Regions from separate parts of the Homo sapiens genome. Here region 2 is linked to region 1. The links come from fine-mapping of genetic effects on gene expression. Tissue or cell type: whole blood. Region 1 holds a variant in brackets; the other region holds the start of a gene. All regions are shown on one strand. Distances are between the middles of the regions.

Evidence for each region. PIP is the estimated chance that this variant, and not a neighbour inherited with it, causes the effect.
Region 2: NDUFS4 starts here. The variant in region 1 is fine-mapped to the expression of NDUFS4 in whole blood (TOPMed, PIP 0.97).

What each region holds. Positions count from the first base shown.
Region 1 is chr5:53,519,560-53,522,320 of GRCh38, forward strand. No RefSeq gene overlaps it. Among named protein-coding and RNA genes, the nearest start is that of NDUFS4, 40 kb to the right of the region's middle. The variant G/A (reference allele first, on the strand shown) is at 1,002.
Region 2 is chr5:53,559,144-53,561,904 of GRCh38, forward strand. It overlaps NDUFS4 (NADH:ubiquinone oxidoreductase subunit S4), which reads left to right and starts at 1,496. Exons shown (of 5, transcript NM_002495.4): 1 at 1,496-1,617. The coding sequence starts at 1,520. RefSeq lists an enhancer at 1,398-1,897.

The DNA of each region.
Region 1 (2,761 bases):
CATTCCTCCACCCCTCCAGCCCATGGCAACCACCATTTTATTTTCTGCCTCTATAATTTGAACTACTCTAAGTTCTTCATATAAGGGGAATTATAGATTATTTGTCTTTTGGGGACTGGCTTATTTCACTTGCCATAATGTCCTCAAGTTTCATGTGTGTTGTAGCATATGTCAAAATTTCCTACACTTTTTTGGCCATACTGCCCAAAGCAATTTACAGATTCAATGCTATTCATATCAAACTATCAATGTCACTTCCCACAGAATTAGAAAGAAACATTCTAAAATTCATTTGGAACCAAAAAAGAGCTCAAATAGCCAAAGCAATCCTAAGCAAAAAGAACAAAACTAGAGGTATCACACTACCTGACTTAAGGCTACAGTAACCAAAATAGCATGTTACTGGTATGAAAACAGACACATAGACCAATGGAACAGAACAGAAGACCCAGAAATAAAGGTGCGCACCTACAAGCTTCTGATTTTTGACAAAGCTGGTAGTAACAAACAGCAAGAAAAGGACTCCCTGTTCAATAAATATACTGGGATAACTGACTAGCCTTATGCAGATGGTTGAAACTAGATCCCTACTTTTCACCATACACAAAAATCAATGCAAGATGGATAAAAGACTTAAATGTAAAACTTAAAACTATAAAGACTCTAGAAGAAAACCTAGGAAATAACATTCTGAACATTGGCTCTGGCAAAAACTTTGTGACAAAGATTTCAAAGCAATTGCAACAAAAGCAAAAATTGACAAGTGGAACGTAATTAATCTAAAGAGCTTCTGCACAGCAAAAGACACTATCAACAGAGTAAACAGACAACCTACAGAATAGGAGAAAATATTTGCAAATAATTGCATCTGAAAAAGTTCTAATATTTAAAATCTATAAGGAACTTAAATCAAGAAGCAAAATTAAACATCCCCATTTAAAAATGGGCAAAGAACATGAACAGACACTTCTCAAAAGAAGACATACACACAGCCAAAGAGC[G/A]CATGAAAAAATGTTCCACATCACTAATCATCAGAGAATTACAAAAGAAAAACACAATGAGATAGCGTTTCACACCAGTCAGAATGGCTTCTATTAAAATGTCAAAAAACAAAAGATGCTGGTGAGGCTGCAGAGAAGAGAGAATGCTTATACACTGCTGGTGGGAATGTAAATTAATTCAGCCACTGTGGAAAGCAGTCCGGAGATTTCACAAAGAATTTAAAATAGAACTACCACTTGGCCCAGCAATCCCATTACTGGGTAAATACCCAAAGAAACATAAAGTATTCTACTGTAAAGATACATGCATGCATATATTCTTCTCAGTACTATTTACAATAGCAAAGACAAGGAATCAACCTAGATGCCAATCAACAGTGGACTGAATGAAGAAAATGTGATACATATACACTAGGGAATACTACACAGCCATAAAAAAGAATAAGGTTATGTCCTTTGCAGCAACATGGATGAAGTTGGAAGCCATTCTTCTAAGCAGATTAAAGCAGGAACAGTCAAGCAAACACTGCATGTTCTCACTTATAAGTGAGATCTAAACATTGAGCATACATGGACACAAAGAAAGGAACAAAAGACACTGGGGCCTACTTGAGGGTAGAGGATGGAAGGAGGGTTAGGATTGAAAAACTAAGTATGGATATTATGCTGATACCTAGGTGACAAAATTATCTGTACACTAAACCCCCGCAACATGCAATTTACTCATGTAACAAATGTATTAGTCCATTCTCATGTTGCTAATAAAGGCATACCTGATACTGGGTAATTTATAAAGGAAAGAGGTTTAATTGTCTCACCATTCAGCATGACTGAGGAGGCCTCAGGAAACTTACAATCATGGCAGAATGGGAAGCAAACACACTCTACTTCACTTGATGGCAGCAAGGAGAAGTGCTAAGCAAAAGAGGGAAAAGCCCCTTATAAAACCATCAGATCTCATGAGAACTAACTTACTATCGCAAGAACGGGATGGGGGAAACCACCCTCATTATATTCATTATCTCCCACCAACTCCCTCCCACAATATGTGGAGATTATGGGAACCACAATTCAACATGAGATTTGGGTGGGGACACAGCCAAATTATATCAACAAGCCAGTACAAGTACCCCTTGAACTTAAACTAAAAACAGGAAAGAACAAAAGAGAATTACCTCCTTTTTAAGGCTGAATGATATTTCATTCCACATTTTGCTTTTTTATTCATCCATCCATAGGCACTTGTGTGCCCACAAATTTTTTTTTTTTCTGACATGGAGTCTCACTCTGTTGCCTAAGCTGGAGTGCGGTGGCATGATTTCAGCTCACTGCCACCTCTGCCTCCCAGGTTCAAGCAATTCTCCCACCTCAGCCTGCCGAGTAGCTGGGACTACAGGCTCATGCCACCGTGCCCCACTAATTTCTGTATTTTTAGTGGAGACAGGGTTTTGCCACGTTGGCCAGGCTAGTCTCAAACTCCTGGGCTCAGGGGAGCCATCCACCTCGGCCTCCCAAAGTGCTGAGATTACAGGCATGAGACACCATGCCCAGCCAAAAAGATTTTTTAAATAACTTAAAATTTTTAAAAAATAGACACTTGGGTTGCTACCATGTTTTAGCTATTGTGAATAGTGTTGTTATGAACATGAGTGTATGGATATATCTTCCAGACTGCTTTCAAATCTTAAATATATACTCAGAAGTTGGATTGCCTGATCATATGGTAATTCTGTTTTTAATTTTGGAGGAATTGTTGTAGT
Region 2 (2,761 bases), 40 kb after region 1:
TACATCCATGTCATGGAATATTACTCAGCAATAAAAAAGGAATGAACTATTGATAAACACAACAACTTGGATGGGTCTCAAGTGCATTATGCCAAGTGAAAGAAGCCAATCTTAGAAGGTCATGTACTGCATGAGTCCATTCATATAACATCTCAAAATGTCAAAATTATAAAAACAGAAACAGAGATCACTAGGGTTAGGAGGGCAGGTGTTACCAAAAAGGTTAGCACTAGGGAGATCTTTGTGAGGGTGGAATAGTTCTGTATCTTGATCATGGTGGTGGTTACACAAAATATGTAGTAGAATGACATAGGACTACACAAATACTTTATATCAATGCCAGTTTCCTGGCTTTGATACTGTACTAGAGTTATACGAGATGTAATCACTGGGGGAAACAGGTACACAAGACATCTGTACTATCTTTGCAACTTCATGTGAATCTATAACTATTTCAAAATGAAAAGTTTGAAAGAAAATTTTCTCTGAGGCATCTCTCCCTTGCCTTCCTTCATCTTGTGCATTTCTTTCCCTGAGTATGACTTTTTCTCTTTCTTTCTCCCTTTCCCTTATGTACTGGGTTTTCCTTTAACGGTCCATAATGCCAAACTATGTCATTCCCCATCCTCCTATTGTTCCTATTTATTTAATGAAGGTTATGTTTTCATGTGCTTAATTTTAAAAGCAGGAAAGTACTAACTCTTTAAACAAATTTCTTAAAAAACAAAACCCAAAACTAACCTGCTTTTTATTTTATATAATTCAGTTAGTCATTATTCTTTAAGGTCGGAAGTCCACAATACAAACATGTTTCCAACACTTGTATTGGAAGATAATTTTTGTTTTATATGCATGGAGCATTAATATCATTCTTCATGTCTATGGATTATGAACACACACACATTCAGGATTTACTGGGGAAACAGTGACATCAAATATTATGTTCTATTGATTCTTCATATAAATCTACATGTCAAAAAATAATCCTTTGCCAGATCACGTATCCAGATTTTTCGTTTGGAAAATACGAACATTACTACTACAGAATATCAAACTGAATACAGCCCTGTCCTGAGGGCTTGCAAAGTGAATCTGGCAATACTTTGGAAAAGTACTACTGCAGGTTCTCAAGGACCCAAAGAGCTCTCCAGCTTTTCCAGTGGGTTCAGCCCCAAATATCCTAATTTCTTCAATAAATTACGAGTTGCAGGTGTTTAAATATGCAAGTATATTTTGGTCTTTTCGTTATCATTGTAAAACACCAGTCCTAACAAGCAGTAAAGATTACACTTTATGGTGGTAATATTTACAGTTAATGCACTTCTGCATTTCTTCCCGCACATTTTTCTTCTTACTTATTTAAACTAAGCGTTTCCCCTCTTTTTTTAAGCCCCAGTATTAAAAAGAAAATAAAATCCCAAAGAATTTCGCAACATTGCGATTGCACTGGCTTGAGAACGAAGGAAGTTAGTCCCTTGCGGTGATCCGTCCTTTCATCCTGGCGTTTGCCTGCAGCAAGATGGCGGCGGTGTCAATGTCAGTGGTACTGAGGCAGACGTTGTGGCGGAGAAGGGCAGTGGCTGTAGCTGCCCTTTCCGTTTCCAGGGTTCCGACCAGGTAATAGAATTTTCACACTTTTCTTCAAGCTTCTTGGGTCCCTCCATTTTTGCGGAGTCTCTGCTGGCTGAGTTCCGGAGGAGGCCTCGGGGAAGGCGTCCTCTGTTGACCCTTTTCTCGGGAGAAGTCGGGCGGACTAGGGACTGTCTGCTATCAATGGGCGTTGGCCAGGCGAGTGAGGGCGTGAGTGCGAGGCCGGGGAGGAGGACCTGTGGTTTTCTGGAAGCTTTCGTATTCGGCTTGTCGCTGAGGGAGAGGGTCCGTGGAGGTTTTGCCTCCGGAGCTGCAAGCTGAACCTTAGCCCTCAGAGAAGGGGAGGAGTCTCACTGATTTCTGTTTCCACTTTCTGCATCCCTTCCATTTGTCACCTGTTTGCCCACCACTCCAGTCCTTACAGAAGGGTTAAATCACTGTATCCCTTCCATGGTTTTAAGTGGTTTTAATTTGGTTTCTGCATAGGAAGATTGTTTATTCATCAGTCTGCTTGGGAGGAAAACTTGTTTGGAATTCAGTGTTAGTAAAAATATCACTGCTAGTAATATTGGAAGGTAATTTTTAAAAGGCTGGTGGTAATGCCTGGAGGTTTTCTAGGGATTTTGTTAAAGCCTCACAATAATTCAGGGATTGAATTGAGTTGTTGAGGGCTCTTTGCGTCCTTGAGAACCTAAAGTAGTACTTTTCCAAAGTATTGTCAGATTCAGTTGTCAGTTGATTGAGTTGTTACTGTTTTTCCTTGAAGCATTTTTGTGATGATTTTTTTTTTTTTGGCTGTATTAACCTTCCATTTTCTATTTTTCAGAATTTCCTGGAGTTTTTTAAATTATAGTACTAATGCTATACGTACATACACACACATATTAGAACAAAGATTGGAAAGACTGGATGGAGAGATTTGAAGGGGGTAGGAGGTGGATGCAAGTGGTTAAAAGTTGAAAGGAAGGTCTAGTAGAATGCTAATTGATTTAGTGTTAAATATAAATGGAATGCAGAGAATTAGGATGAGTTAATTCGGAAGAATTTTTAAGGATGAGTTTTATTAAGGTTTAAATATAGTGGGTGTTGGGTGGGAAAGAAGAGAGTGTCCCGTAGGGTCCGTGGCTTATGAAAAGGCTTGAAAGCATTAGTTAAACGATTACTAAATACA